4 separate regions of the Homo sapiens genome follow, and all the other regions are linked to region 1. Evidence: fine-mapped expression QTL. A gene starts in region 1. Each other region holds a variant in brackets. All regions are shown on one strand. Distances are between the middles of the regions.

Evidence for each region.
Region 2: its variant is fine-mapped to the expression of SDHA in whole blood (TOPMed, PIP 0.93).
Region 3: its variant is fine-mapped to the expression of SDHA in whole blood (INTERVAL, PIP 0.98).
Region 4: its variant is fine-mapped to the expression of SDHA in whole blood (INTERVAL, PIP above 0.99).

What each region holds. Positions count from the first base shown.
Region 1 is chr5:214,013-222,112 of GRCh38, reverse strand. It overlaps SDHA (succinate dehydrogenase complex flavoprotein subunit A), which reads right to left and starts at 3,793. Exons shown (of 15, transcript NM_004168.4): 1 at 3,695-3,793. The coding sequence starts at 3,757. It overlaps CCDC127 (coiled-coil domain containing 127), which reads left to right and starts at 3,960. Exons shown (of 3, transcript NM_145265.3): 1 at 3,960-4,020; 2 at 5,254-5,384. The coding sequence starts at 5,264. RefSeq lists silencers at 3,183-3,422, 3,653-3,982 and an enhancer at 2,975-3,783.
Region 2 is chr5:321,269-329,368 of GRCh38, reverse strand. It overlaps AHRR (aryl hydrocarbon receptor repressor), which reads right to left and starts at 7,655. Exons shown (of 11, transcript NM_001377236.1): 1 at 7,550-7,655. All of the region lies in intron 3 of PDCD6-AHRR (PDCD6-AHRR readthrough (NMD candidate)), which reads right to left. RefSeq lists enhancers at 6,644-6,763, 6,852-7,419 and silencers at 7,004-7,063, 7,074-7,453, 7,544-8,033. The variant T/C (reference allele first, on the strand shown) is at 4,625.
Region 3 is chr5:291,860-299,959 of GRCh38, reverse strand. All of the region lies in intron 2 of PDCD6 (programmed cell death 6), which reads right to left. The region is part of intron 2 of PDCD6-AHRR (PDCD6-AHRR readthrough (NMD candidate)); the gene reads right to left. Among named protein-coding and RNA genes, the nearest start is that of PDCD6-AHRR, 24 kb to the right of the region's middle. RefSeq lists enhancers at 2,424-2,952, 2,953-3,481 and a silencer at 4,783-4,953. The variant C/A (reference allele first, on the strand shown) is at 5,033.
Region 4 is chr5:187,199-195,298 of GRCh38, reverse strand. PLEKHG4B (pleckstrin homology and RhoGEF domain containing G4B) reads right to left here. Exons shown (of 20, transcript NM_052909.5): 20 at 5,333-8,100. It overlaps LRRC14B (leucine rich repeat containing 14B), which reads right to left and starts at 3,804. Exons shown (of 2, transcript NM_001080478.3): 1 at 2,862-3,804; 2 at 1-591. The coding sequence starts at 3,760. It overlaps LOC124900929 (a long non-coding RNA gene), which reads left to right and starts at 572. Exons shown (of 2, transcript XR_007058670.1): 1 at 572-937; 2 at 2,311-2,571. RefSeq lists enhancers at 4,090-4,139, 6,205-6,344, 6,391-6,685, 6,645-6,824. The variant ACG/G (reference allele first, on the strand shown) is at 4,953.

The DNA.
Region 1 (8,100 bases):
TGCATGGTAAAATCATATTTTAAGAAAGAAGTCTTTGAAATAATTTTAATACAAATGTTCTTGAAAATGTTGTAAAGTGCCCTATTAACATAGTAATAGCACCAGTAAGAACAGTATATTATACCAAATGTAAGTAGAAACAGTGAGATCACTCAATGTTTATTCGTTCTTTCTAGGATGTTGATGTGGAAGACCCACTGCCCACCCCCCACCACACACACACAGAGCTGGCTTAAAAGGGGCAGCTACTATAACACAATCTTGAACAAATTATCACGCCATCCCCCTGGCGAAAAGGACACTAACCCTCTCAATCTAAATCTAATCTGGGGCAGATTTTTGAATTTGGAAAGCCCAACTTTAAGCCAATTTCAGTCTTTAGATAAAACTCAAAACTAGTTTTGACACAAAACTAGTCTTTTGTGCCAATTGTTAATTTTTTTAGGAGAAACTATCAAACATTTCCTCAAGAAAAAAAATGGGGAACATATAACTAAAAGGAATACTTAGACCTTGCTTAACAATACAGAATTTCAGATGACTGAATTAGGAGGTGGAGGGGAAAAGTAAGAAGTGCAGAGACATTCATATCCGAAATCTAGCAAAGTAAGGGGTCCTCATCTAATACAACGCACCTATAAATCACGAGCAAGAAACTAATCTGCATGTACAACCTACACAATCACAAAAGCAGCCAACGAAGAACCTAAAAACGCACGACTGTATCAGGAAGAAGCGGAAGCAGGGTAGTTTAAGTGAACTAAATCCCCTCTCTAGGCAAGAAGTCTAAAACTGATAAAAATGCACCTGCATATCCGCTAAAGAAACAGAGGTATTACAAATGCCAGGAGTCAGTATCAGAAACAGGAATTGCTTTCATGGAAAATGAACTGGGTGAGGGAGGGTATACTCATTGATTCTTTTACAACTGCGTGTAATTATTCTCACTAGAATTTTAGTGTTTATTATTTTAAAAACAGGGATACTTAAAATACAGTTCGGCCGGGCGTGGTGGCTCACACCTGTAATCCCAGCCCTTTGGGAGACCGAGGCGGGCGGATCACGAGGTCAGGAGATGGAGACCATTCTGGCTAACATGGTGAAACCCCGTCTCTACTAAAAACACAAAAAAATTAGCCGGGCATGATGGCAGGTGCCTGTAGTCCCAGCTACTCAGGAGGCTGAGGCAGGAGAATGGCGTGAACTCGGGAGGCAGAGCTTGCAGTGAGCCGAGATTGCGCCACTGCACTCCAGCCTGGGTGACAGAGTGAGACTCTGTCTCAAAAAAAAAAAAAAATTCAGTTCACACATGGTTACTGTGCATAGGCTGTGAGCCCTGGTTCTCAAGAGCATCACCAAAGGTTTCAAACATTACCCACAGAATCCTCACTAACCCCACGGAAAGACGGAGCTCAGAGAGGATTCAAGTCGGCCGGCCTGGCTCTGGATCCTGGACTTGCCCCCCTATCTAAAGACCCTTGGGAAAAATCTCTGAGACTCCCAACTAATATTAATATCCAGGTTTCATATCAAAAAACAAGTCACAATTTTTCAAATAAATCAGGAAAAACATCATGAGGAATGCAGAATGGAATGCCATTGTTGTTACAATTATCCCAAGAAGCAAAGCAAAGGTTTACTACTATAATGGCCTAAATAATGTATTTCTAGAACACCATTAAACATATTCAGAACAATCCATTCAAAGAAAAGAAATCAATTTGTCCTAGAACAATATATTGGATGTTCATGTTAAGGGATTTGAAAAACTTCACCTGAAGTAAGCAGTTAACCAGTAACTATTGAAGTTTCTTGGTTTTCTTTTTCCTCTGATTAAACTGCTTTCGAACAGTTTGCAAGCTGTGTCAGTGCACTGGGCCATAAAAAGAAACCAAAAGCAAAATAAGTCTGATAAGTTCGTCACTTGAAAGCAGTTGTAAATACAGAATGATCAAAACACCACAGAACTGGCCAAAATGAGGTTAAAAAATTCTCTCTGGACTTTACTGAAATTATCCTCAGCATCTATTTTCCAAACACATTTCTCAGTTGGCTATCACGAATTTCTTTCTTTTTTCTGCTAATTTTTTGATTATGCTGTTCCTTCGTAAACTCCAATTCTTCAGGAAAAAAAGCCTATCTGAAATGCCGATAAATATGCTGCTTGCAGGCAGAATTTCTGTAGGAAAAGCTAACTTCATCAAGATAAAAAGACTTTTACAAAACCCAAGACTAAATTTTGGTTCAATTTTGCTATCTTGCCATCCCGTCTGAGGTGCCTCCGCCGCTGGCAGGGTCTTAGTCTGCAGAAGGAACACCGGGCACCATCTGGGTTGAGGACAAAGGCACTAGCTCTAGCTTTTCTCCAATCACAAGCTACCATTTCCCCTAAAAAGCCCCACTGACCATGGGCTTTCCTTCCTGCTTGTGGACGCCCTCCTAGCAGCTCTTAAAAGCCCAAGATGCGGCAGGGGTCTCTGCTCAGTCAGTACCAACCACAGCAACACACTAGAACGGTTTACACGCTTTCTGATGTTGGCAGGATGGCTGTATGACTAATCCTCACATTTAACTCAACGAGATTTTTAATAAGTATTTCAAAAAGGAGAAAATTGCACAATTACAGGCATAATTCAAATCAATATTGCTGAATGCCTTGGTTCCTATTGAGATTTTTATTCTGCAATTTAAAATTACTTTGTAATTAAGGAGGTGGGTGGGTAAGTTCATTTAAAAGAACCAAACAACTAAACCTATCCAATTTAGCTTGATTAAATAAAACCCTAGAAGGCCGATTCTTAAGATGCAATCGTAGAGGGCACATTCAGACACTCAGAGAGCAAGGGCTCAGGGAAGTATAACCCTGACCACCATCCTGGACTAAGCCGAGCCCGGCCCTAGAGGCACTCAGCGCACAGGCAAGCACAGGTCCCGGCGTCCTCGCCCGGTCAGTGCGCTGAGCTCTCCGCCTGAGTTTTAAAAACTGGCACAGCTGCTTTTAAACACTGGCACATTTTTGGTGGCATAAGGACCACCAAACACGACCCAAAGTAGAAGCCCTTAACTTACAAGGTCTCGAAGTGGACATGGACAGATTTGCGCTTTCTGGAAAGGCGAACTGCAAGCCTAAGCTCGGGCGCGCCACGCTTCCCACCGGACGCCCACCGGGCCGAGCCCGGCCACTCCTCGCACCCACCCGGGCGGTCTCACCCGCCCCGCCGGCCCCACCCACGGGCTGCGGGCTGCTCCTCAGGACAACCCGCACAGAGGGCGGCAGAGGCCCAGCCCAGCCAGGGCGGCCACCGGCCGCTATCCGCCCGGGTGACCTTGGGCAGACACGACTCCTCCCCGAGTCCACCTGCCAGGCACTGAGGCGAGGGGCTACCTCAGCCCGCGGGGTCCCAGGACCCCAGGCCCGGACCAAGGCGGCGGAGGGGACGCCCAGCAAGCCCGCGGGGTTGTGACCTTCACCCGGACGCGGACTATCTACTAAGGACCGAGCTCCCCGGGTCCCCGAGTCCGCCCCGCGGCTTCCCCTCGCACCGGCCCAGGGCTCTCTCAGCCCCTTCCCGATCCCGGGACAGAGGGCGCAGGGACCCGGCGCCCGCTCCGCTCGGACCCGCTGGGGACCGTCCCGCTCCTACCGCCGCCTCGGCCCCCGCCTGCCCCGCCCCGGTCCGCGGCACGGACTCACCGCCTTGGCCAGCGCCAGGCGCCGAGCGCTCAGCAGCCGCGACAGGCCCCGGACCCCCGACATGTCTGCTGTTGCCGCCGCGCAGTCCCGCCAGTCCCTGCGCAGACTGCGCCTGCGCACCACACCGGGGTCGAGCTGGCGGGGGAGGGGGGATACCGCGCCTGCGCACCACGCCGGAGTCGAGCGGGGCTGCAGTGGGGGACATCGCGCCTGCGCACCATGCCACGCCCGGAGCGGGTACTGAGTGGGGGCGCCGCGCCTGCGCAAAGCGGACCCGCGGACGGTGGCGTTAAGGGAACGCTGAGGTCCCGCGCTCCCCGACCGAGGTAGAGCGGGCCCTGTTCCGGGGAGGTGGTGGGCACCAACATTTTTAAAGCCCCGTGGGTGGTTCTCCGGGATCGCCCAGACCGAAGGGCCTGAACGCCCAGACCGCAGGGAATGGGGTCGGAGGGGGGCGCTCGTCCGCGGAGGTGGGCGGGAGCGGCCCGGGGCCTCCGACCTCTTGTTTATTATACATCCCTTGATTAACTAAACTATTTTGTAATTGTGTGTGTTTGTGGAGGTCACATGTAAACAAACTTAAAGTGACTCTACTTTGTGAAAATGTGAAACTTCGTGTAGGTACTCAGTAAATCAGTAAATTCTTACTAACGTTAGCCCCCAGCCTAGCTATGGAGGGTGCATGCTGAGCCCGAAGCAGAGAACTCTGTAATCTCTGCATTCATCACCACCACGAGGAGGCCTCAGAAGCTTCTAGCACTGTTTGCACCTTCCCCACATCACCCCTCCCTGCCTTCCTCACAGTCTTCCTTCTGATCAGAAGACCCTTTCCTTCTTTCTCTGCCTGTCAAAATGCTGCTCACTCTTCAAACCCTAGCTCATATGAAAGTGTCCGGTGTGAGCCCACTTTTATCGAGTTGATTCTGTATCTTTGATACAACTGTATGAGGGTTCTCCAGAGACACAACAAATAGAAGGGAGACGTGAGGAATTGGTTTAAAGGTTCAATTGCTAATCTCATCCAAAAACACCCTTACAGACACGCCCAGAAATAATGCTTAACCATGTATCTGAGCACCTCATGATGCCGTCAAGTTGACAAACAAAATTAACCATCGCAGCAGCCATACATTTAAACATATTTGTACCAGAGAACTTACCTGATTCTACCTGCACTTCAGATGCTTAAGACATGTCTGTTTTCTCCACTTTCCCCAACCAGATTGTGAGTCGCTTTCATCTTAAGTTCTTGTTTTTTTTTTCCTTTTTCTTTTTCTTTTTTTTTGGGGGGGACGGAGTCTCGTTCTGTCACCAGGCTGGAGTGCAGTGGCGCGACCTCGACTCACTGCAACCTCCACCTCCCAGGTTCAAGCGATTCTCCTGCCTCAGCCTCCCGAGTAGCTGGGACTACAGGTGCCCGCCACCATGCCCGGCTCTGGTCTAGTTTTTTTCTTCTTTGAATCCCGTAGGGCCTCAGTGCTGTGCAGCAAGCACATAGTTAAAACTGAAGAAAAATTTCTTGAATAAAAGTAGTTAACGTTTTTATTCTTTACTTCAAGGTATATCTCCATGAATAACCTAAATGATCCCCCAAATTGGAATATCCGGCCTAATTCCAGGGCGGATGGTGGTGATGGAAGCAGGTGGAATTATGCCCTGTTGGTTCCAATGCTGGGATTGGCTGCTTTTCGTAAGTCATGGTTTTCTTAAAATTCGTGTTTTCCAGGCTGAGAGTGTGGAGCCCCGGTGAGGGAGGCAGCATGGTGTGGGAGCCTGAAGGCCGTGACTTTGGGACCTGCCAGGGACAGCCGAGTTTTATCCCCTGCAGTGAACCGTGGGCAAATCACTTAAGCTCTGAGCCTCAGTCTTCCTGTTCACAGGAGATGGATAATCATACTTAACCTCAGCACACTGCAAGGATTAAGTCAGCCAAGGCGTTTAGAAGCATTTTGTGTGGGGTGGGTTTTAATAACTTAGTTCCCTCTGAAGGCTTTGCTGCTCTCAAGTCGGGGAGGAGGTTCCTTATTTCAGGTGCCCTCATAAGGACTGCTGGGGAACAAAACGGGTGTAAAGGAAACCAGTGGGCTGGGCGTGGTGGCTCATACCTGTAACCCCAGCACTCTGCGAGGCCCAGGTGGGCAGATCGAGTGACCAGCCTGAGCAACACAGCAAAACCCCGTCTCTACAAAAAAATACAAAAATTAGCAAGTCGTGACGGTGCACACCTGTAGTCCCAGCTACTCAGGAGGCTGAGGTGGGAAGATCAGTGGAGCCTGGGAGGTCGAGGCTGCAGTGAGTGGAGATGGCACCACTTGCCCTCCAGCCCGAGCAACAGGGTTAAAAAAAAAAAAAAAGAAAACCAGTTTTGGAAAACCAGTGATGTTTAATGTTTAGGAAATCAGTCTTTGGGAGACTTCATCCATGAAATCTCTGCTTGGCCTGGCCAGAAAAATTCTCTCTAGTTTAGATTGACTTGGCACCACTTTGGGGACCTGCCGGTCATATGCAGACTTACATCCCCACCACACAATCAATTCACTGATGCAGAGGAGTGAGTTTTGTGTTTCTTCACATTCCATGGTTCTGGGCTGGCACTTAGGAACATGAGAAACTGAATAATTGAATGGAAGAAAGGCAAAACTGCCCTCTAGTTGTAGCGATACATTTTGTGTAGTGGCTTTTTATCTGCTTCCATGTCTCAGGTCAGAAGTTTTGCTGTAGAGGAAGAGGAGGCTGGTAAGAGCAGGTGGTTTTTATGATTCAGTGATCTGCGCAGTGCTTGCTTCTTGGTGAAAGACAGGGCAGGTCCACATCCAATCCTAAGGGGCTGCCATGTAAAAAGCTCATCCGCCTGCAGGCTTGGGAAAAAAAACCCTTAACACTTGGAGAGGCTACTGTTGCCTGTGGCTAGGGTGAGTGGATTGGAAGGCTTAAAATTACTCTGACTAATGTAATAATTAATTGGCTTTGAGGCTGGGAGAGGCCCTGAAGTGACTCATTTTCCATTTGTTTTTCAGACTCATCTCCAGCTTTTATAGCCTTTCATGATAACTTTCACTTTTGAAATTCTTACCTTCCCTTCTTGGACTTTTGAAATGATGCTTTCTGTCCCTGAAAAGGGTTGAAGAATATTTTTTTCTTCCTGGTTTTTTGCTGAGGTAGTGTGGTCAGAGAGAACTGTTAAGTTGGTGTTCTTGTAAGGATTCTCCAAAGGTGTGTTACGATGTGTTTGAGGTTCTGTTGCACATAGGAGCGTTAACCAGCCCCTAGTGTAGTCTAGAAGAAGAGGCAGACATATGAATACTTGATAAGCGCTATTGGTTGATTTATTGATGAGAGGCTAGTTTTGTCCTGATCACTCGCTTCATTTACTAGAATTTTTTTTTTTTTTCGAGACGGAGTCTTGCCCTGTCGCCAGGCTGGAGTGCAGTGGCGCGATCTCGGCTTGCTGCAACCTCTGACTCCCTGGTTCTAGTGATTCTCCTGCCTCAGCCTCCCGAGTAGCTGGGATTACAGGCGCCCCTCACCACGTCCAGCTAATTTTTGTATTTTTAGTAGAGACGGGGTTTCACCACATTGGCCAGGATGGTCTCGATCTCCTGACCTCATGATCTGCCCGCCTCGGCCTCCCAAAGTGCTGGGGTTACAGGTGTGAGCCACCGTGCCCAGCCCATTTACTAGATTTTTACTTAACATAACATAGAAATGTGTGTAATTGTGCTTGCCCGAAAGAGCAGTCCCTGGAGAAATTCTTACCCTGAGTAGCTCCCAGGGGAGAATATTCAGTATTTCAGCACTCCAGAGGGCTTCTCTCTCTTCACACCTCCTCTGTCATTCTGCTTCCCCCCTTTTCTCTCAGTCTTCTTGATTGCCCTTTCCCCATCTCTCTCTCCGTGCTTTTCCCATCTCTCCGTGCTTTCTCCCCTCTAGTGTTCCTGTACCTCCTGTTTCCTCCCCTGACCCAGAAAACATAGTTTTAGAGCTGAAAGGGACTGGTTGAGTTCACTGGGCCCAACTCAGTTTCTTTTAATTAAATATTTTATTTTGGGGTCATGTAAATCACATGCAGTTGTCATCAGTAATGCAGAGAGCCCGTGTACCCTCTACCCAGCTTTCCCCAGTGGAAGCATCTGCAAAACGATAGTGCAGTGTCACAGCCAAGACATCTGCCAGGATGCGGTCAAGATACCCCAATCCCTGGGGCCTCACGTGCTGCCCTGTGTACCGCCCCTCCCTCCATAGCCCCCGGCAGCTACTGATCTGTTCTTCATCTCCAGAACTTTGTCATTTCAAGAATGTTATGTAAATGGAATCAAACAGTATATAACCTTTCGGGTTGACTTTTTTCATTCAGCATAACCCCCTGAGGTCCATGCAGATTGTTGCTGTATCAGTAGTTCATAGAT
Region 2 (8,100 bases), 110 kb before region 1:
AAAATTAGTCAGGCATGGTGGCACACACCCATAGTCCAGTTACTCAGGAGGCAGAGGCCAGACAATCTCTTGGGCCCAGGAATTCGAGGTTGCAGTGAGCTATGCGCCAATGCACTCTAGCCTGGGTGACAAAGCAAGATCCCATCTCGAAGCAAAAAAGAGAGAAGAAGGAGGAGGAGAAGAAAAGAGAAAAAGAAAAATAATCCTAAAATTCATAAGGACCAAAAAAGACAGAGGTGTGTGTGTCAGCGCAGGAAAAACTACCATTTATCAAACCATCAGATCTTATGAGAATTCACTCACTGTCATGAGAACAGCATGGAGGAAACTGCCCCCATAATCCAATCACTTCCCACCAGGTCTCTCCCTAAACACCTGAGGATTATAATTCAGGATGAGATTTGGGTGGGGACACAAAACCTAACCATATCACTACATGATTTCAAATTACACCACAGACTATAGTATGGGTCTTAAACTAAAAACCTTCTGCACAGCAAAAGAAATAATAAACAGAGTGACAATATAACCTGTTAAACGGGAGAAAATATTTGCAAACTATTCATCCAACAGGGGAGTAGTAACCAGAATATACGAGGAACTCAAACAATTGAACGATGGCAACAACAAAAAAACCCAAGTGATCCCATTAAAAAGTAAGCAAAGGACATGAATAGACAGTTTTTAAAAGAAGAGATACAAATGGCCAACAGGTATATGAAAAAATACCCCACATCACTAATCATCAGAGAAATGCAAAATAAAACAACAATGAGATATCATCTTACACCAGTCAGAATGGCTATTATTAAAAAGACGGCCAGGTGCAGTGGCTCATGCCTGTAATCCCAGAACTTTGGGAGGCCGAGGTGGGTGGATCACTTGAGGTCAGGGGTTGGAGACCAGCCTGACCAACATGGTGAAACTGCATCTCTACTAGAAATACAAAAATTAGCTGGCATGGTGATGGGTGCCTCTGAGGCTGAGGCAGGAGAATTGCTTGAACCCAGGAGGCAGAGGTTGCAGTGAGCTGAGATTGCACCACTGCACTCCAGCCTGGGCGACAGAGGGAGACTCTGTCTCAAAAAAAAAAAAAAAAAAAAAAAAAAAAAATCAGATGTTGGTGAGGATGCAGAGAAAAGGGAACTCATACACTATTGGCGGGAATGTAAACTAGTACAGCCTCTATGGAAAACAGCATGGAGATTTCTCAAAGAATCAAAAATAGAACTGCCACAGCCATCAAAAATGATGAGTTCATGTCCTTTGTAGGGACATGGATGAAACTGGAAACCATCATTCTCAGCAAACTATCACAAGGACAAAAAAACAAACACCGCATGTTCTCACTCATAGGTGGGAATTGAACAATGAGAACGCATGGACACAGGGAGGGGAACATCACACTCTGGGGACTGTTGTAGGGTAGGGGGAGCGGGGAGGGATAGCATTAGGAGATATACCTAATGCTAAATGACGAGTTAATGGGTGCAGCACACCAACATGGCACATGTATACATATGTAACAAACCTGCACGTTGTGCACATGTACCCTAGAACTTAAAGTATAGTAATAATAAAATAAAATAAAATAAAATAGAACTGCTATTTAATCCAGCAGTCCCACTACTAGGTCTATACCCAATGGAAAAGAAATCAATATATCAAAAAGACGCCTGCACTCATATGTTTATTGCAGCACTATTCACAATCGCAAAGAGATGGAATAAACCTAAGTTCCCATCAGTGGATTAATCAAAAGAAAATGTGGTATATATACACAATTGAATATTATTCAGCCATAAAAAAAGAATGAAATCATGTCTTTTGCAGCAACATGGATGGAACTGGAGGTCATTAAGCGAAACAAGCCAGGCACAGAAAGTCAAATGTCACGTGTTCTCACTCACAAGTAGGTGCTGAATTTGTATACACACGGACGTAGTGAGTGGAATGATGGATGACAGAGACCTGGAAGGGTGAGGGGGTGACAAGGGCCCGGCTGATGAGATTTTAGTTAAGGAGTACAATGTACATTATTTGGGTAATGGGCGCCCTAAAAACTTTGACTTGATCACTATGCAATCTATGCATGTAACAAAATTACACATGAACCCATAAATGTGTACAATTTAAAAAATGGGCAAAGGACTTGAGGAGACATTTCTCCAAAGAAGATACACAATGTTCAACGCATGAAAACATGCTCAGCCCTGTAAATCATTAGGGAAATGCAAGTAAACAAAAATCCATAATTCAATACCATTTATACGACTAGGATGGCTTCTTGTTGCTGTTGCCGTTGTTGTTGAGACAGAGTCTCGCTCTGTTGCCATGGCTGGAGTGCAATGGCTCAATCTCAGCTCACTGCAACCTCCACCTCCTGGGTTCAAGAGATTCTCCTGCCTCAGCCTCCTGAGTAGCTGGGACTACAGGCGCGTGCCACCACGCCTGGCTAATTTTTGTATTTTTGGTAGAGATGGGGTTTCACCATATTGGTCAGGCTGGTCTCGAACTCCCGACCTCAAGTGATCCGCCTGCCTCAGCCTCCCAAAGTGCAGGGATTACAGGCGTGAACCATGCGCCGGGCCAGCTATCATTTTTTTTAATGGAACATAACAAGGGTCAGTGGGGCTATGGAGAAATTGGAACTGTTTCTGGTGCATTGCTGGTGAAAATGTAAAATGGTGCACCTGCTGTGGAAAAGTGTGGTGTTTCCTCAAAAAGTTAAACACAGAATCACTATATGATCCAGTAACTCCACTCCTAGGTACACACCTAACAGAAGTAAAAGCATTTGTTCTAACAGAAACCTGCATACAAATGCCCATCATAATTCACAGTAGCCAAAAAATGTAAACAACCTAAATGTCCATCAGCTGAGGGATCAGTAAACAGAATGTGGTATCTTCATAAGATGAAATATTATTCAGCCATGAAAAGGAAGGAAGCCCTGGCACGTGCTGCCACATGGATGGACCCTAAAAACGCTGTGATGCGTGAAAGAAGCTGGACACAGAAGGACACACACTGACCCCATTGCATGATATATCCTGAGTAGGCAAACTCAGATAAAAAGGTTCGTGGTGGCCAGGACCTGGGAGCAGGGACTGGGGAGTGACTGCCTGGTGGGTGAGCACTGCCGGAGGCGATGAAGAGGTTTTGGAGCTAGAGAGAGGCAGTGGCTGCACAACTTCGTCAATGTACTAAATGCCCCTGAACTGTTCACTTTTAAATGGTTAGTTTGATGTTATGTGCATTTTGCCTCAACGAGAAAATACAAAGAGGCCGGCCGCAGTGGCTCACGCCTGTAATCCCAGCACTTAGGGAGGCTGAGGCAGGGGAATCGCCTGAGGTCAGGAGTTCAAGACCAGCCTGGCCAACATGGCGAAACCCCGTCTCTACTAAAAATACAAAAATTAGCCAGGCGTGGTGGCTGGTGCCTGTAATCCCAGCTACTCGGGAGGCTAAGGCAGGAGAATCGCTTGAACCCAGGAGGTGGAGGTAGAAGTAAGCCAAGATCACGCCACTGCACTCCAGCCTGGGCAACAAGAGCTGGACTCCATCTCAAAAAAAGAAAAGAAAGAAAACAAGAAACAAAAAACAAACACCATGTAACACATAGGACACAAATTTACAAATAAATATAAGCAAAATATGTGGAATGTTAAGAAAGAAAGCAAATGGCAGATTGGAGCAGGGACAGATGCCGGTGGGTGGGTGGAGGTGGTGCGGAGGGTGGGACGGATGCTTCGGAAGGGTCCAGCCCTCCCCCCGAGGTGCTGTGGGATGCCCAGCCTCGTCTCCATCATGGTCACGTGTCTGGCCCAGTGCACTTCTCCCAGAAACCAGGTTGGGCACTTGGTGGCTGGAGGCCAGCCTGCAAGGACATCCCATCAGAACTGCAAGGCCTTTCGACTCAAACAGGAAACTCCCAAGCCGCACCCAAGCCTGGCCCCAGTCTGGTGGGGAGAACAGGCCAGAGACGGTTCCCAGCACCCCAAGGTGGGCCGGGCATAGAGCAAACCCACTCGACCACCCCTTGAGGTCAAGGAAGGTAAAGGGGATAGGGTGACCTACACCAGCCCCAGAAGACCCTGAGCCCAGGCACCACCAGCCTGACCAACCCTCGTCCCCAAATGAGTGCAGAGCCACAGGGCAAGAGCGGGTCGGGGGGTGGTGGGACAGCTGGGAAGATGAAGCGGGGCAGGGGATGTTGTCAGAGGTGGGGCTAGTGCAGATCCTTCTTGTCCCCAAAATCCCAAACTCCCTTCCGAGTAGCCGGAATTGAGACGGAAGCCTCGTTGCCCTCCTCAGCCTCACATACCAGTGACTACTCGCCCTGCAACGCCTGGGCAAAGCCACGTTCTCCCAGGTGTCTCCAGCTCAGTGCTGTGGAACGGTTCTAAAATCAAGGGTTCTGGTAAAAATCACCAGAAGCAGATAAATATTCCCTGTGGGCGGTGTGGGGGAGGGGCCCCGAGGAAATCCAAGGAGCTGGCCTGCCTACCCCCTCCCCACAGCCAGTGCCCCCTGAATAACCAGTTTTGGGTTTTTCGTTTTTTGTTTTTGTTTTTTTGAGACGGAGTTTCACTCTTGTTGCCCAGGCTGGAGTGCAATGGTG[T/C]GACTTTGGCTCACCACAACCTCCACCTCCCAGGTTCAAGCAATTCTCCTGCCTCAGCCTCTCGAGTAGCTGGGATTACAGGCATAGGCCACCACACCCGGCTAATTTTTGTATTTTTTTAAGTAAAGACAGGATTTCTCCATGTTGGTCAGGCTGGTCTCGAACTCCCGACCTCAGGTGATCCACCCGCCTCAGCCTCCCAAGGTGCTGGGATTATAGGTGTGAGCCACCACACCTGGCCCAGTTTCAGGTTTTGCTTGTGCCTCAGTTCTTTTTTTTTTTAATTTTTTTATATAAATGAATATATTTTTATTAAAAAAAAAATTCCAAGTGGAAGCACCTTTGGCTATAACTCATCGCATTGAAACAGCTAGGCGGCTGGGCGTGGTGGCTCATGTCTGTAATCCCAGCACTTTGGGAGGCCGAGGTGGGGAGAGCATGACGTCAGGAGTTCGAGACCAGCCTGGCCAACATTTAGTAGAGACAGTGAAACCCTGTCTCTACCAAAAATACAAAAATTAGCCAAGTGTGGTGGCTCACACCTGTAGTCCCAGCTACTTGGGAGGCTGAGGCAGGAGAATTGCTTGAACCTGGGAGGCAGAGGTTGCAGTGAGCCAAGAAAGCGCCATTGCACTCCAGCCTGGGTGACAGAACAAGACTCTGTCTCGAAAGAAAAGGAAAGAAAGAGAGAGAGAGAGAAAGAGAGACAGAGAGAGAGAGAGAAAGAAAGAAAGAAAGAGAAAAAAAGAAAGGAAGGTAGGAAGGAAGGAGGGAAGGAAGAGCGAGCTAGGCAAGGTGTTTCAGGGCCGCCAAGTCTTTCCTACCCGAGTCATCAGCCCCTAGCAGATCGGCCTGTTCATTCCTGCCTGTCTGTGAGCCGACTCTCCTCCGCAAGGAGCTCCGTTGAGTCTCCTTCAATGCCTGATCACCCCAGACCACATGGCGCTTTCCCGCTTCTGTGTCGTATTAACCACTTAACACTGGTCAGGGCCACCCGGCGGCATCTCTCCAACTGCATTGCAAATGACGACGGCTGGAACCACAGCTGCCTCCCCCTCCCCCGGCGTCTCAGCACCCAGCACGGGTGAACGAGGTGGGAAGACCCTGTTAAGCCACAAGCCGTCTCCCTCTGATCACAAGGCCTGCTCCCGGGAACACCAGGCCACATGAAGGAGGGGCCTCACAGTTGCAGGAAATAAATAATTTGGCACAAGGATCAAGATAAAGTAGTTTGAGAAACAGTTGCTGATAATACTTTAGAGAAAAGCCTCGCGGAGTTCAGGTGGTCACCTGAGCATATCTGAACTTCCTGGCCCTACTGGCAGAGATGCGAGGGGGTGGCAGGGAAGTGTGTCTCAGTTCTTGCCATACCTAGCCTAAATACAGGAGGAGGGATGCTATTACAATAGGTTGTTCCATTTTACAAAATACTCATGAACTCACCTCAACAGATGGAGCCTCCTTTGGACTGGACCAAACTCCCCACAGAAATGCCCCTGTGAGGCAAGACTCAGCTGTCCCCGGCCTCCTGACGGCAGCGTTCTTCTCTGCCTGGGACACAGGTCGAAGCTGCCTCATAGGTAATTGGGGGACAGGGGAGGACCCTACCCACTGCAGCCAGGGGCTCAGCCGGGGACCACGGGTGGGGCCTCGACAGACTCCTGGGTGCTGCTCACGGGCAGGTCCCACACGGGACAGAGGGGTCGGCCAGGGCCATCTGGGGCCTCCCAACCCCACCAGGCTGTGAGCTGACAGCACTCCTCTGAGAAATCTGAATTTTTCTAAGAACCTTTCTCCCGTGGTAAAACTCGTGTCTGTTCATTTTAGAGAATACAGATAAGTAAGAAAACGAAAATAAAAGCCGTTCCCCAGGCGGTGGCGTCCCCCCCGTCGAAGCGGCTCCCCAGGCGGCGGCGTCCGCCGGGTCAGCATCCTACGTTCTCCAGTTCTTGTTACTCGTGGCTTTTCAGCGACTCTGGGGCCGCATCGAGCCCCGGCTTTGTGCGGGATGGGTATGGCACACTCGGCCCGAGTCCAAACGCCGCCAGTCACTTGCTCTGAGAGGCTGGATGAGCGACCTACCTTGATGTCCTCGTTCGTAAAATGGGTGACGGTTGCCAGGCCGGGGCGGCTGTGAGGCCCCGTGGGGGTGGCGTTTGGAGAACGCGCGCACACGCCCACCCTTCTGCAAGAACCCCGCAGACGAGAGCCTGTGCGCGCGCACAGGAGGCCCAGGGAGGAAGCCCCTCCCCGCCTGCCCTTGCCATCCCGGAGGCCACAGCCGGACAGGCCCGTGGGACAGGCCCGTGGGACGCTTCTGCACAAGGTCTCTGACCTCCGGCCTCGCAGAAGAGGTCAGAGGGTGGCCCCTGCCTGTCACGCGCCCATGGCGACCCCTCCCCAGAAGGGGTCCCAGCGTGGACTCCAGGCGCCACATCGCTCTCTCAGGGCATCCGGTCTGGGAATTCTGGCCGCTCAAAATAAGACTTCAGCGCTACTGGGTGCTACTGAAACCAAGCCTGAACATGGGCCTTTCCCGGGGGTGAGGCCCCCCGGACCTGGCGCCCTCGGCCCGACAGCGGGGCCCCGCTCCGCCGCCCGCACCCGCCCAGCCCCAGGGAGCGCGGCCCGCACGGAACGCCCGGGGAGTGAAGGCTCAGAACACTCTCGAGGGGACGCTGAGGACCACGAACCGTGGACGCGCCGCGGCTTCCCTCCGAGGTCCGAGTTTTAAGTGAGACCAGCCAGCCGCACCCCAGAGTGTCCGCCCCGTCCCGGGGCCGCCGGGCCTGGCGACGCGAGGATGCGGCGTGAGGAGGGTCCCGACGCCGGCGCCCGTCCCTCAGCCCCACACCCGGGAGCGCATCCCGTCTCCACCGCGGGCGGCACGCGGCGGGGGCCTGCGGGGGCGCCCAGGACACTTACCCAGGGCCTGCGGGGCGCGGAGGCTCAGGCACACCCGCGGGGCAGCGCGCCCTGGCCAGGAGCTGTGGCGGCGGGTGCCGGCGCTCGCATCCCGGGAACCCGCGGCGGCTCCAGGGACTGCCCCACCCCGGCACGCGAGCCGCCCGCCCCGCCCCGCAGCATCCAGGGCCGGGAGGCGGCAGAGGGCGCCCGCGGGTCCGGCTGTCTCGGGTCCGGCTGCCCCAGCTGCCCTGGCGAACCGGAGACGCCATCCGGTTCCCCTGGGGTCCGCCCTGCGCCCTTCGCGTCCCAGTGATCCCCCGGAGTCTCCGTGCCCCGAGGCGGGGGTCGCGCGCTGAGCCCCTCCAGGCCCTGCGTTCCCCCTGGGGTCTGTGTGCGCCCAGGGTCCCCCGGTTCTCCCTGCGCCCCCGTCCCCTCCCCAGCGCTCGCGGCCGGCTGTGCTGAGCTGCCGGCCCTAGAGCCGGGCGGTGTAGACCCGAACAGGTAAAGTGAGGAGAGCGTGTGCCCCCTCGCCTGCCCCATGAGGTCGTTTCGAAAATGTAAAAGGAGTC
Region 3 (8,100 bases), 78 kb before region 1:
TTACAGGGCACTGTACTGCTTCTGAGGTCTGATTTTTCTCAGTTCTCTTTAATATGTGATCTCCAAGAGAGCCTCAACTGTATTTGATAAAAAAATAAAAAAAAAAATACCAGCTGGGCGCGGTGGCTGGCGCCTGTAATCCCAGCACTTTGGGAGGCCAAGGCGGGCGGATCACCAGGTGAGGAGATCGAGACCATCCTGGCTAATATGGTGAAACCCCATCTCTACTAAAAATACAAAAAATTAGCCAGGCATGGCGGCGTGTGCCTGTAGTCCCAGCTACTCGGGGGGCTGAGGCAGGAGAATGGCGTGAACCCGGGAGGTGGAGCTTGCAGTGAGCTGAGATTGCACCACTGGACTCCAGCCTGGGCGACAAAGTGAGACTCTGTCTTAAAGAAAAAAAAAAAACCTTCAAAAGAACGTAAGAATTATTTCTTAAAAGTACAGCTTCAGAAGCACAGAGACTTGAAAAAAGTTAATTTCTTATAATTCCAAGATGTTTTGGGAACGAGAGATCAGCACAGAAATTGGGCTAGGAGGATAATGGATGAAACCGATGGGCTGATCACGGTTCCAGCATGGTCTCGCCAGGGAGGTGACGGGGTTTGAGTGCTGCAGTGCAGGACTGGGGATGCCACAGGAACGGGTGCCCCAGGTAGGGCGTCATCCAGGAAGGATGAGAAACCTGAGAACAGCTGGGGGGGAACAGCTGGGGGGGAGCAGCGGAGGGGGAACAGCTGGGGGGAGCAGCTGGGGGGAACAGCTTGTGGGGAGCAACTGGGTGAGAACAGCTGGGGGGAGCAGTTGGGGGGGAGCAGCTGGGTGAGAGCAGCTGGGGGGGAGCAGCTGGGGGGGAGCAGCTGGGGGGGAGCAGCTGGGTGAGAACAGCTGGGGGGGAGCAGCTGGGGGGAGCAGCTGGGGGGAGCGGCTGGGGGGGAGCAGCTGGGGAGGAGCAGCTAGTGGGGAGCAGCTGGGTGGGAGTAGCTGGGGGGAGCAGCTAGTGGGGAGCAGCTGGGTGGGAGTAGCTGAGGGGGAGCAGCTGGGGGGAACAGCTGGGTGAGAGCAGCTGGGTGAGAACAGCTGAGTGGGAGCAGCTGGGGGAGCAGCTGGGGGGAGCAGCTGCGGGGGAGCAGCTGGGGGGGAGCAGCTAGGGGGGAGCAGCTGGGGGAGCAGCTGGGGGGGAGCAGCTGGGGGGGAGCAGTTGGGGGTGAGCAGCTGGGGGGAGCAGCTGGGTGGGAGCAGCTGGGTGGGAGCAGCTGAGTGGGAGCAGCTGAGTGGGAGCAGCTGAGTGGGAGCAGCTGAGTGGGAGCAGCTGGGGGGAGCAGCTGGGTGGGGGCAGGGTCCGCTGGCTGCACGGGGGTGGTGAGAGGAGCCCTTGAGGGCCTGAGAGCAGCGAGGCCGGGAGGAACCCTAATCCCTCATCTGCACATGACATGGGGCCTGCCGGAGCCCCACAGAGCTTGGAACGGAGCTGGGGAGGAGAGTTTGCCAGGCCTCCCGTCCCCTCCTTCTTCCCACTGGGATTGCTCTGCAGGAAGAAGAACCCATCATGTCCTTGTAAATGTGCTGGGGAGAGAACCCCTGACAGTGCCTGGTGCTCACTCCTGGGGAGCCACTGTCTCGGGTGGTCCTGGTACCGTGAAGTTTCTGGGCTCAGGTCCATGGCACCTGGAAAATGTGTTTAAGTGAAATGATCTTCAAAGCCCAAGAGGAAATGTTCCAGGCACCCCTCAGAGACCCCATGAGGCAGGAAGGACAGTGGGGCTATGGGGGCCCCCAGCTTCTCCAGCTCGACCCGTGCCTGGGAATTACCCCTGAAATCATGAGCAGAGCTGGATGCTGGGTCAGTTCTGTGTGCCTGGAAATTACTCCCTGATATCGATAGCAGAGCTGGACGCTGTGGTCTGTGGGACTCTACCCTTAATGGCTTCATTTATTTACGTGGATCTAACCTTATATTTATCTATGTAAAGAAATAAATTTGTCATTTGTTAGATTCACCTGTGCTTGAGATCTCTTTTTAAGAATATTTTCCTAGCCATTAAAGAACATAAGTCGATTTTCTTTTTTCATTTCCCTATTGCTATGTGACAAAAGGTCATATTCTATACTTTTTGTATTAAAGGACTTCAAATTACTGATACTTTGGATGACTTCTAAAGTCTTTGCCATATTCTGAATGAAGAATGTGAGCCCCAGGTTAAAAAGATCAACAATTAAATCACAGGGTGTGTGTTCACCAGGAGGCCTGGTGTCATTTTCTTGTGGGCCGTTTGCGATTGGCTGAGAGGGAAGATCTCGTGCTGTGTTCTCACCACGGGCACAGGTGCAAGGAAGCCCCCAGCAAGTGTGGAATTCCTCGATTGCTTTGATTTGGTGATGGTTTCATGGGTGTTTGCTCAGGTCAAGTCTCACCAAAGTGCACACATGAAATGTGTGCAGCTCTTTGTGTAGCAATTATACCTCAAAAAAGCTGAAACACTTTTACACTTGAAATAATCGAAGTGACATTTTAATCTAAAGGTATACAAATCTATCGCCTACATGGCTGATTTTTCCATGAGAGTCTCATTTACAAGAGAAACACAATTATGAAATCCGTACCCTTTACTTTTTAAGGGTAACGGAAGAAGCATAAGTTTCTGCTAGGACAGCGCTTACGCTCTCCCCCATGTTTATTCCGTGGTTAACCACATGGTAGATCCACAGTGATTCAGGAAGATGAATTATCTGCAACACGCAGAAGTTCAGTCCTCTGGCATGTACGAATCCTGGTGTGGTTTTTGCACAACATTCTGCCTGGGATGCGTGGGGAGAAGCTGTGATAACAGGATCGGGATTCATTCATGCTTCATTCATCTGGGAGGCCTGCGACTGCCCGGCACAGTGTGGGCTGAGCCTCCAGCGCCGAGCACCAGACACTCCACCCTCCTGAGGCACTTGTGCGGATGCAGGTGAGATGCCCAGACCAGCACGGTGTGCGTGGGGGGTCGGGCACCAGAGAACTTGAGATGAGATTCAACTGTGTGGATGGGTCTGGTGGAGGTGGTGGCTCCCGGGCTGGGGAGGCATAAAGACGAATCCCGGTGACCCTTGCCCTGAAAAGCTGCTATGTACATTTAGTAGAAGACTGTCGATGAAAACAGACTCTCAGAAGCAAAGAGGGGCCTCGACGGGCCCCCCCACCCATGTGCAATGCCAGTCTTACTCTCTCCACCCTCGAAGGGAGCGTCCTCCTCACCTTTCTGGTCCACCTTCCCTTGCCTTGCCTGCAATTATCCACTGAATTCCTGCAGCCCCAAACAGTCTTTTTGATGTGGACTACTTTGAGCTCGACATAAATCAATTAATTAGCAGCGTGTGTTTTTGCTGCTTCATCCACTCACACACTATCTGAGACCCATTCATGTCTCTGGGGGTCCCTCACTCGCCTTGCACTGGCTGACTCCACTGAGGGACTTGCTGGGATGTCCTCATCCACCTGCAGTGAACGAGCATTTGGATCTCTTCCCACTTAGGTCTGTGCAAACAGTGACACCAGGTGCATCTGAAATATGCCACGTGCCCAGGTGCACGTGGGGCGTGAACAGCTCCCTGACCCCTCTGTGGCGAGAGAGCAGAGGCCCAGGGTGAAGTGGGGAGGTGTGGGTGTGGGGCCAGGCTGGGGTGGGGGAGAGGACACTGGATTCTGGGCCTTATCTGAGGGTCGAGCAGCAGGTGTCGTGGCCGATCAGATCTGGTGTTGAACTGGCCTGATTGTCCCAGAGAATTGATGTTCATGGTTTCTCTGAATAACATAGAAATGGATCCTTTTGGTCTTAAAACTTGAGAAAGTGACATTTGTCTTATTTGAGTTCCTTTCTTAGGAAACTGACCATCAGGCCTCCCAGGTAGTGTGAAGGAAGAGAGACTCACCAGATCACGCCATCTGGACAGTAAGACGCCAAACCCCTCACCCATCATGAGTGCCTGACCAGCCACCTGCCTCCTCCTGACCAACTCCTCTTCCTCACTCTCCCTAATTCCTGTTTTCCTTACACACAGTCACACTTCTTCCCTGCTATATAGTCAGTCAGGAAGATGGATTTGAAGCTGACCTCCCATCTCCTGGCCTGTAGCTTCTGATGCATGCCTTCTTCATTGGCAGTAACTATCGTCTTAGTGATTGGCTTTCTGTGTGGAGAGCAGCGGGATCTGGAACAAACCCCTGCATTCCGGGAACAGGGAGAGCAGCCTCAGCAGGCCCCGGGCCCTGAGTGCGGTCATGACCACCAGGGACCACCCACCGAAGGTGAATGTGGACAAGAAAAAAAAGGCTCCTGAGGACCCAGCCAGAATTCCTGCAACATCACGGAGAATCATGGCCACCCGGCCCATGCCCCCTTGAAGGGCAGCTGCAAGATTCATCTCATTTGTCTTTCTTTCCTGGACATCTTCAAATTTCCTTCACCACAACCTTGTGATCCTGAGATTCCATCAATATGTGCATTGTTTTACTATATTGCTTTAATTTACTCTGCCGGTTATCTGGAGAAATGCAACCTCATCAGCAGAAATTATTTCCACCCTGCCGCTTTTTAAATGTTATTTCCTATAGCCAGGTACTGAGCCCTTCAATGGAGGTCTAAACCCTCCACTCTCTCCCTCTGGGATTGCCAAGCCTGTGGTTTCAGTTCCATGCTCCCAGGTAGATGATGTCAACTCAAAGTCCAATACGCTTATGAAATACTTTTTGTGGTTTTTTTATTTTAAGAGTTTTTTTTAATATGTTTTTGTTTCATGGAGGTGACACCCTCTGTCTTTGACTTGTGGCAGCCTTCCTCCTTCAGTCTGCGTGTACTGAAGCTAGTGTTTGCTGTACAGCCCCTCAGCCGCAGCAGCCCACAGTGAGGTGCAGGTGCTCACGCCACCGCCCCAGAGAGCTCCTCCATTCGCCCCTCCACCCGTAGCCCCTCGAAACCACTGCCCTGCTCCCCAACACGGTAGCACTGTCTTCTCCAAGATGTCACGTGGCGGCATCCCTCGGCCTGTG[C/A]GCACCGAAACTAGCTTCCTTCACTGGGCATGTGGCCTGGGAGACCTGGGGCATTTGGGTGCATCCTTCCACTGCTGGTTGGTGCCCCCTGTGTGGAAGCATCCGCGTTGGTTCCCGCCTCCTCCTGCCGATGGACATTTTGTTTTCTTCCAGTTATTGGCAATGAGGAATGAGGCCTAAACACTTGTGTGCAGGTTTGTGCATGCACGTTTAAGTTTTCTCTTGGGGGACGTTTCAGGAGCGGGGTTGCTGGATGACAGGGTAAGGATGTGCTTAACTTCGTAAGAAACTCCCGGACCACTTTCCAGCATGGCGGGACCCCTCCCATTCCCACTGCAGCTTATGAGGGTCCCAGTTCCTCTGCATCATCACTAGAACCTGGGTCGGCCTGTGGTTTTTGTCTGTTTTTAGCCATTTTAATAGATTTGCAGAGGTACTGTTGACTGGCATTTCTCCAGCATCTCTACGACGTTGAGCCTCTTTCTCGGGCAATATGCCCTCCTTATACCTTCTTTGATGAGGCCTCTGTTCCAATATCTGCCCTCTCTTTAATACTGGGGCTTTTACTTTCTTATGGTTAAGTTTTGATGGTTCTTCACATATCCTGCGTGCCAGTACGTTGTGAGACGTGTGATTCACAAATGTTTATTTCTAGACCATGGTTTGTGTTTCATTCTCTTTAGATTTTTATATTGCTTTATAGCATTATAATTTTAAATTTATGACAATTTAATTTGTCAATCTTTTATGAATCATGCTTTTGGTGTCATGTCTAAGAACTTTTCGCCCAACCCCAGGCCATACAAATTTTCCTGTGTTTTTATCTAAGGGTTTTATAGCGTTATGTTCTCCATTTAGGCCTGTGATAAATGTTGAGTAACATTTTGTGTCAGCCATGGCCATACCTTTCTCCGTCTCTGACAGTATCGCGGGCGTTTGCAGCTCCCAGTGCCTCGTGCTGTTCCCGTCTTCTTGATCTGCTCTTCCTGTCATACCTTTCTCCGTCTCTGACAGTATCGCGGGCGTTTGCAGCTCCCAGTGCCTCGTGCTGTTCCCGTCTTCTTGATCTGCTCTTCCTGTCATACCTTTCTCCGTCTCTGACAGTATCGCGGGCGTTTGCAGCTCCCAGTGCCTCGTGCTGTTCCCGTCTTCTTGATCTGCTCTTCCTGTCATACCTTTCTCCGTCTCTGACAGTATCGCGGGCGTTTGCAGCTCCCAGTGCCTCGTGCTGTTCCCGTCTTCTTGATCTGCTCTTCCTGTCATACCTTTCTCCGTCTCTGACAGTATCGCGGGCGTTTGCAGCTCCCAGTGCCTCGTGCTGTTCCCGTCTTCTTGATCTGCTCTTCCTGTCATACCTTTCTCCGTCTCTGACAGTATCGCGGGCGTTTGCAGCTCCCAGTGCCTCGTGCTGTTCCCGTCTTCTTGATCTGCTCTTCCTGTCATACCTTTCTCCATCTCTGACAGTATCGCGGGCGTTTGCAGCTCCCAGTGCCTCGTGCTGTTCCCGTCTTCTTGATCTGCTCTTCCTGTCATACCTTTCTCCATCTCTGACATTATCGCAGGCGTTTGCAGCTCCCAGTGCCTCGTGCTGTTCCCGTCTTCTTGATCTGCTCTTCCTGTCATACCTTTCTCCATCTCTGACAGTATCGTGGGTGTTTGCAGCTCCCAGTGCCCTGTGCTGTTCCCGTCTTCTTGATCAGGTCTTCCTGTGAGTTTCAGGGCATGTCTTAGTGCTGGCGCTGTCCTGGTCCATCAGGGGGTCCTGTGGGCTTGTCCATATGGGAAAGTCGGGACTGTGATGTTGACGGGATGCCCTGTGAGTCAGGGGGAGGTGCTGATGGGGGTTTCCATGTAGGAGAGAGAGGTGTTTGGTTTTCCGGATGGTGCAGACTTGAGAGGGGACAAACTTGAGAAATGCCACCAATGAGAAGCCCAGGCAGAGCAGGTCTTGGGGCCGCCCAGCTGTGTGGGAGCCAAACGTGGATGTGTCAGTGGCCACGCCAGGAGGTAAACCCTCAACCAAGGGCCTCTAGGTGTCCAAGGCCAAGTCTTGTTCAAGAGGTGCGTTCAGCTGAGCCAACCATGGCAGAAATGCATAAGGGAGATCCCATGGTTCCTCTGTTTAAATCCTCTGCTAATCCCCACCCGACTCAGAGACGGAGCCAAGTCCTCACAGCAGCCTGCCACCCCTGCCTGACTCGGCCTCCTCTCGGCTCTGTTCTCCATACCCTTCTATCCCTCTCTGTCTCTTCTCCCACCAGAGAGGAGATCCTGCACATTTATCCTGGTGGATTCAAACCCATCTTTGCCATACAGATAGTCACCGGAATGAACAGGTATAAAGAGTCCTTTTGAAAAAGAAAAAGGCAGGCCAGGCATGGTGGCTCATGCCTGTAATCCCAGCACTTTGGGAGGCTGAGGTGGGAGAATCACCTGAGGTCAGGAGTTTCAGACCAGTCTGGACAACATGGTGAAACCCCATCTCTAGTAAAAATACAAAAATTAGCCAGGGGTGGTGGCGGGCGCCTGTAATCCCAGCTACTTGGGAGGCTGAGGCAGGAGAATCACTTGAACCCAGAAGGTGGAGGTTGCAGTGAGCTGAGATCACACCACTGCATTCCAGCCTGGGCAACAGAGTGAGACTCTGTCTCAAAAACATAACAATAGGAATAATAAAAGAAAAGTGCAAAAATTCAAACAACTTAACAGAAACTGGGGAAAAGAGCTGAACTGGCCCTCCACAGAAGAGGAAATGTGGAGGAATGGCTAATGAAAACATGAAGAGGGGCTCAGCCTAACAGTGGGAGATATCACGTGACACCCACCAGATGGGCAAAAATCCCACCACCAACAACCCAATCCATGCCAGTGTTGGGGAGAATGGAGAGAAGCAGGAACACCACGCCCTGCTAAGAACGGTTGTGAAGTCTATTTTTGTTATGCTTGTATATGAAAGAGTATGTTGTGGGTTATGAGGAAAGTTACATTTCTTACCTGGGATGAAATTTTAAAACTTGAAAGCTACTGACCAGAAGCAACTTGCACTTGTGTACAAAAGAAACGCCCAA
Region 4 (8,100 bases), 27 kb after region 1:
TGCAGCAAGAAAGCACCAAGCTCATTGCTTGTTTCTTGAATGTCTGGGTCAAAACTTCCAAAGAGAGGTGTGGAGACTTGGATGTCCTCTCGGTCAGCCCGCAGCAGCACGGCACGCAGCTCCTCGGCGATCTCGTCGTATTTCTGCTGGTTGAACTTGGACATGGCCAGCTCGTCCTGTGGGTAGGCGGCACCCTCGGGGTAGCAGTCCTTGGGCACCGGGAACTCAATGCAGCGCAGCTCGGGGAGCTCACAGAGTGCGGTGAAGAGGCGCCGGAGGGCGCGGGCCGACAGCGGGTTCCCGAGGAACTTGAGCTGGCGCAGCCGGTGGCAGGGGCTCAGGCCCAGGATCAGCATGCCAACGTGGCTGTCTACGATGCCACACTCCTCCAGTGTCAGGATCCTCAGCGTCCGGGAAGCCTGGCTGAGCAGCCTGAAGAAGGTCGAGGGGTACAGGCTGACCAGGTTGTGTCCACTGAGGTCCAGCACCTCCAGGTGGGCAGCGTGGGCACAGTCTGCCAAGAAGGCCATGTCCGTGTGGTTCAGGGCACAGTTGGCCAGGTCCAGTACTCGCAGCGGGGTCTGTAGGGGGCTGCAGGACACGGGGGAAAGAGCACAGGTGAGAGGAGGGTCCCAGGAAGGAGCCGAGGGCTCAGGCGAATGGGAACAACCCATTTGTCCATCATGGGGTCAACACACAGTCACGTCCAACCACCGCCTAATTTCATACAGCCTATGAGCTAGGAGTGGTTGTTATATTTATATAATAGTTTGTGAAACGTGAAAAGTTACATGATATTCAAACTCGGTGTCCATAAATAACATTTTACCAGAGCACAACCACGTGCATTCGCTTAGTGTTGGCCATGACTGCCGGCCGCCACGTGGTGAAGTCAGCTATACCCAGAGGTCTGGCTTTTGTCCTCAGCACCTAAATGGTAAGTTTGTTTTGTCAACAGCTGCTTTTGTGTTGTCTGAGAAAAGTGATGCATGTGACCACGAGAACGTCCACTCAGAAAGTGGACGGGGTGGGGCAGTGAGACCACAGGACAGAATGTCAGCTCAGAAAGCAGACGGCGGGGGGCAGTGAGACCACAGGACAGAATGTCTGCTCAGAAAGCAGACGGCGGGGGGCAGTGAGACCACAGGACAGTGCCGCTCCACTCTGACAAAGATGAATCCCGCATGGTTTCAGAGCTGGGAAGGGCCATGGAGGCTTCCAGTACAGCCTTTGACTCACCTGGGAACCCTAAAGACCCCCCAACTTGCCCCACATCCCATATTCTGACTTGGTTGGTGTAGGGCAGCCTAGCTCTAATACAGGGGCAGTTGGAGTGAGACCTACTCTGGTTCTGAGCTAAGGGAGATCTCCAGAGCAGAACTGCATCGGGACATGGCCTCACTGTCCTCGCTGAGCCGGGGGACACAGCTGGGGTCTGCCCCATCCCAACCCTCTCCTTAGGAGGCTGCCTCACTCTTCACCCACCTGCACCTGCACCCACCTGCATGTCCCGCCCAGGACATGTCCCTCCCCACCCAGGACTGGGACCACTGCCAGGTGCCCCTGTCCCACCTGAGAAACCACGCCAGGCATGCCCCCTGCCCAAGGTCCCACCGCAGGGCACCTCTATCCCTCAGGACCCACCGCAGGGCACCCCCATCCTTCAGGACCCACCGCCAGGCATCCCCCACCAGGATCTACTGCCTGGTGCCACCCCAGGACCCACAGCCAGCCACCCCCCACCCCAGGACTCACCACCAGGTGCCCCCACTTCAGGACCCACCACCAGGCACCCCTACCACCGCCAGGCACTTCTCCCCAAAACCCACTGCCAAACGCCCCACCAGGACCCACTGCCATGTGCCCCCAGCCCCCAGAACCCACCGCCAGGCACCCCCCAGCACCTGAGGACCCACCTCTAGGTGCTTCCCCAGTACCTACCAGGCACCCCTTCCCCCTAGACCCACTGCCAGGTCCCACCCCCAGGACCCAAAACTGGGTGCCCCCCGGACCCACCGCTAGGTTGCCCCACCAGGACCCATCACCCGGTGACCCCAATACCCACCGCCAGCTGCCCCTCCTTCAGGACCCACCACCAGGCTCCCTCCCAGCACCCATTGCCAGGCACCCCGTTCCCCAGGACCCATCACTGGGCACCCCCCTTGGACCCACCGCTAGGCACTCCCCCTCCAGGATCCACTGCTGGGCACCCCCCTTGGACCCACCGCCGGGCATCCCCCTCACCACTGCCTGAGGCTGCCTTGGCCTGGCCCCTTCCTAGCTGCTGCCCTCTCTGCCTCCTTCACGCAGATCTGCTGAGAGGATCCTGCATAAGCCTCCTGTCCCACCATGGGGAGGTCCATGCAGCATGGAGCCCAGGCCTCCCTCGAGGGAGACTGGGAGGATCCCGCCCTGTCAGGCCTTCGGATGAGATGGCACCCTTGGCCAACAGCAGCCCTGAGCCAAAGGCACCGACAGGCTCAGATTTCTGAGCTGAAATCGTGTTTGCTGTTTGAAGCCCCCAAGTGTTGGGGTGAGTCGTTCATCAACAATAGACAACTCCTCACACCACGTAGGCACTTCTGTTTCGTCTGTTTGGTAATTTCCGTATTCTCTTTTTTTAACTGGCATTCTCTCCACATCCCTAAGTCACACATGGCAGCCCGCTTCTTTCCTGGTGGCTCTGACTTTCGGTGCTCTTGCCCCTTGGCGGGGCCGCTGTCCTGTGGCTGTGGCCACACCCGGAGTGAGAGGCTGGAGGCCGTGTAGCCTCATGGCCTTGGACATGAGCAGGCCCCTGGACGATCTCTCCTTGCCTCTGCAGCCACCAGCCCGCCCTCAGTCCCCTCCCCAAGACTCACCCAAGCAGCGTCGGGATCTTCCCGGTCAGCGTGGAGAAGGCCACACTGAGCTCAGTGAGCTGCGCCATCTTGCTGAGCTCCCGGGCGATGGAGGCGAGGAGGGGGTCCTCGCCGTCGGGAGTGGAGGCGTAGGTGGGGGGTGCATCAAAGGCCTTGGTGGGCAGGGTGAGCGAGGCCAGCCGGGGGAAGCCCACCTGGGCCAGAAGCTGCTGCACGTGGCCCGCATGCAGCCGCACGTTGTGCACCACCTCCAGCTTGCGCAGGGCACCCGGGCCAGCCAGACGCAGCACGTGCAGGAGCTGGCTGGGGCTCAGGCTGTCCGCCCGGAACGAGGGGCAGTGCACCCGCAGAGGGGCCGGGCCCGCTGGCCTCAGAGCCTGCACCACCGCCTCGAAGTTGCCCTCAGTGACGAAGAGGTCGGCGAGGACCTCGACGGGGCGCCCGGCTGCGAGGGGCTCTGCCTGCAGCTCACAGCAGGTCCTGGCCAGCAGCTGGGTGCGGCCCCACCTGCCCAGCGCCCTCCCGCACGGGCACCGCTGCACCTGCACATCTCGGATGCCCGTGAGGTCAGCCACCCGCAGCCGCCGGCGGCTCCGGTCCTGCAGCACGTGGTCCGCGAGGCCGCGCACCAGCGCCTCCAGGCAGGCCCTGCAGGTTCTGTCGCGCAGGTCCTGGGGGTGGTCGGCACCAGGACCCAGCAGCGCTCCCAGCCGGAACTCCTCCAGGGGCCAGCGCCCCAGCACCGCGCGCGTCACCTCCGCCTGCTCCAGCAGGTAGCTGGCTTTGAACAGGAGTGGGTAGAGGTTGTGGGCCACGCTGTCCAGGCTCTGCCGGGCCACCTGGGGGTGGGACACCAGAGCTTCTGCAGAAATGAAGCGGAGTGACCTCATTGTGTCCATGGCCCGAGACAGGACCGCTCCCCACGACTTTCCCCAAGGCGTGTGCCCTTCACGCCTATCTTTAGCTGCAGCAGCTGTGAGCAGCCTGCCCTGGGGGCCCTGCCACGGGGCCTTATGATCATCTGACTGCTATTTTGGTCCTGGGACACCTGCGTCTGCCCGGCCTCGGGGCACGCAGCCGTTGGGAGCTGCTTGGCTCAGGCACCCAGCCGTTGGGAGCTGCTTGGCTCAGGCACCCAGCCGTTGGGAGCTGCTTGGCTCAGGCACCCAGCCGACACAGAAAGGCAGCCCGTGCCCATGGCAGGGCTGGGCAGAGAAGCCTGTGCTCCATGCTGCAGAAAGCCAGTCTTGGCAGGCGTTCGTGCTGGCGGCCGGTGAGGCCAGCGGGCAGGTCCTGTTTACCATCCAAGCGGGGCTACTGCCCAGCTCTGGGCACCTCCCCCACCAGTCAACGGGGCAGAGAACAGGCCAGGCCCCTGCGCCTCACTCGGTAACCAGTTCCCTTTCCACAGTGGCCTCTGGGGCCGCTCCCACACTTCGCCTCGCATCTGGGGTGAGACGAGTGGCCAGGAATGGAGCTGCTGTTTTGCCCCTTCCCTGTGCCTTTCCTTCTCCCCAAGGACCCGGCGGGGGTGGCTTCCCTACTTTCCATGGGAGAGAGTGGCTGGGAGAGGTGGAGCCTCCCTGATGGCCTCGGATGAGCCCCCAGCTCTCTCTGAGCTGCAGTGTCCTGTCTGCAACCCTGCCGCCTGTGCGGCAGGGAAAGCTGCAGGGAATGGGATACACCTGTGTTGGGGGGCGGTGCCTGATGGTTCACTCCCAGCACTGACCGTGTTGGACAGCTGATGGGTGCTGCACTCACCTCTCCCCGTGACACTGCCACTCAGGGCAGGGTCAGCACACATCGCTGCACACATCACTGCACACATCACTACAGGGCACCACGTGTCCATGGGCTTTGGAGGGTCACGGCCATGAGACAGAGGCTGAGGGAGACTGAGAGAAGTGAGTGACGGAGACTGAGACAGAGACAGAGGGACAGAAACTAAGAGGGAGAGAGACAGAGACTGAGGGAGAGAGAAAGGGAAACAGAAAGAGACAGACTGAGAGAGAGACAGAAAGGGAGAGACAGAGACTAAGAGAGAGAGAGAGAGACTGGTAGGCAGAGACAGAGACTGAGAAAGACAGACAG[ACG/G]GGGAGACAGAAAGAGAAACAGCAGTGGGAGGGGGAAGGCTGCTGAGCAAGCTTGGAGGGTGCTGGTCATGGGTGCCCCACCAGCCTCCCTGTCTGACCCTCCCCAGTTTGTTCCCTGAGCCTGAGCAATGCCTCTCCCCGGGAGGCGACCCATGCAGAAGGGACTGTGCTCCGTTGTGGGGCCCAGGCACTGTCCAGCAGGCGGAGGTGTGTGTGAAGAGGTGGGTGGGCCCTGACCCCACCCTTCAGGGGTGGCCGCCCTCGGCCAGCCGATGTGGGCCCCCGGGCTCCCCTCATGAGGTGCACAAGAGGTTTCCCCAGACACACGGCCCCTTTCCAGGACCAGATAAGAGAATCTCGAAGGACACAGTAGAAAAACATGTTCCATTGGTTTTTATGATTAAAATTTTTAACAATTCAGTATTGATACAAAGTAAACACTTAACAACAGTGGCAGGTAACGCCATTTCCCAGACACCTTTTGGGTTCTGAAAAGTGGTTTCCAGAACCTTCCTTTACCTACTCGGGCTCTGTGTGGCCCAACACCCTGCTGTCACTGCGGGGCCCCTGGGTCTCGGAGGGTGGAGACCATGGCTAGGAAGGTCAGCCAAGGTCTGGGCCCCTGCAGCCTCCCTCTCGCTTACTGTTTTCCCTTCTTTTAGAGAGGGGTGGTCCTCTTGGGGTTCCCATTCCAGCAGGACCACTCAGCACAGGTTGGGTCAGACTCAGGCCCAGCTCTGGCGCCGCCGTCCCAACCTGGGGCCACGGCTCTGGGCTCCTTACAGGAAATGCCATGACAAACAGGCGTTCTTTCTCAGACCTAACTCAAGTGCTGTCCTGCTAACTACATGGGACCTGCTGAAACCGAAATGAACCGAGATTCCAGTTCTGTGCAGAGATGGCTGGACCTGCGTTGGGGACATGCCTGGACCACCCAGCCCACTGGCCTTCACTGGTCTGAAAGGTTGTGAGGTACACTGGTCCTAGGATGGCTCACCACGGCTCTGAGACACTGTGAGCCCGGCCATGGGCGGTGGACACGGGGTGAGGGGGTCTGGTGTTCCCACCCTGGGTCACCCCATGACCTTTGGAGGGCAGGAGGGTTCCAGGCTGCAGGAGCATGGGGGTCTGCAGCTGGCAGGCACTGCTGAGTCCCTGCTGGACCAGGGGTAGAGGAACCATCCAGGAGGAAAGCAAAAGAGGCCAGGCCTAGGGGGCAGGGCCCATTATGGGCGACTGCAGGCCCCGAACGGCAATGCTGACCATCGGTGTGCGCAGCCCCTGCCTGAGACCTTCATTTCCAGGCCCGTGCACAAGTCTGGCTCTCGAGGACTGGGGCACTCCCTGGAGGACCCACCTCCATCCCAGCTGTCAGAAGAAAAACTGCTGTTACTCACGTCGCACGGGCCTCTCCCTAGGACCCGCTGGCCCCTCAAAGCTGTGACAGCACAGACGTGGCCTGGCACCCAGCAAGGCCTCTGACACCTGATACACACGGTGGGGCCAGGCCGGATGGAGAGCATCGCTGAGCCTGCCTCTGGTTCCAAAGCTCGGGAGGCTCCTCTGCGAGGCCACCTTGTGGTGCAGAGTGGATCTGCAGCTTGAGGGGAGCTCCAGGTCCCAGCCAGACGGGGCGTGGACTCGGCGGCAGCTCCACCCAGCTGGTGTCATGGGCGTTCTGTGGGCAACAGGGTTTGGACCCTAAAAGTGCCGGTTCTGTCTGCTGCTCTGATCCGGAACAAGAGCGTCTGTCTCGTAGCAGCTACATGTGTGACACAAAAGCTCTCGTCATTTCACACGCGGTGTGGAAAACATTCTCTATGTCACAGGCACACAGAACCCACATTCACCTATCGTTTTGTAATTAAATCTTGGACCTACGCCCCAGGTGGTCAGTTCGGGCTCAGCCAAGGTGCTAATCCCCCAGGGATGGTGGGAGCAGCCTGGACCCTGGCCGTTTTCTTCTCCTGGGTCTCAGGGTGGGTCAGCATCTCCCTGCAGGGTCGGTCCTCTGTGAGCCCCCCCAGGACATCAGGCAGGTGTGAAAACTCTGACACAGCACGCAGTCTGGGAAGCATGAGTAACAAAGCCCCCACGTGGGTGACCTTGGGAGAGGCGTGTCCCCAGGATGGAGCCTTCTCTGAACGGGAGGCTGGAGCTTTCTCCTTATGGGGGCTGCTGAAGGCCCAGGGCAGGCACACCAGCGCCGCCAGCCCCAGGACCTCTGGTTGGCAGCAGAATCCGTCCTCTGGCAGTGGCCCTGAGGGCTCCTGTTTCCTGTGGTCAGAGCACCTGGCAGGGGGCTCCTGAGAGCAGGGCGGGGGCAAAGGGGGGCCAGGGATGCCTGGATCCTGGGGGAGCTGCTCCTGACAAAGGAATGCTCGAGGGAACCCGGGGAGGTGGGGTGGCCTCCTGCTGCCCTCTGACCTGACAGGCGGACCTCCTGGGAAGACGACCACCCTGGGGCCAAGGGTCCCCTGCCTCCATGTGACCCTGCCAGCCCTCTGGGTGCACTTGGTTACCAGGATGTTGAGGCTTGAGACCTTTGGGAGCTACAGGCGGGCCGGGGAGGGAGGCTGCCCAGCAGATGCTTGATGGGGGTGGGGCCAGGCGAGCTGTTGCTTCAGAAGCATCTAGAACAAGGCGGTGAGCTGGTCAGGCAGCCTGGTGGTGGCGGCAGGCCAGGCGATGTGAGCTCCCCTTGGCTACTTTAGGGTCAGCCAAGGAAAGGTCTTTCCTTATGTAAGGAGCATTTTGCCTGTCAGAAAACCAGCCTGAGGCCTGAGGCTTGGGGGTTTTGTTCTGACCACAGGGAAGAAACTGCTGGGTGGAATGGTGTTGGCATGAGGGGTCTGGGGACGTGGACTCTCCAGGGCGTGCCATGCTCCATCTAAGTCTCTCAGGTTCTTAGGGCTCCCTCAAAACCCAAACCTCCACTGCTGCTGCCATCCAGGAGGGGCCCGGGCATCTCCCCAGAACCGGGGATGGACGCAGGCCCAGCTAAGCCACAGCCCTCACGACACCTGGCAAAAGAAGAGGTCTCTCTGGAAGGTGATGGGGATGCGGCTCCCGTCTGATCAGCCTCTCCTGAGTCGCCTCCCTGCTGTCCTCAAGGGGATGACATCTGTACCTGCCCGGTTGTGTCT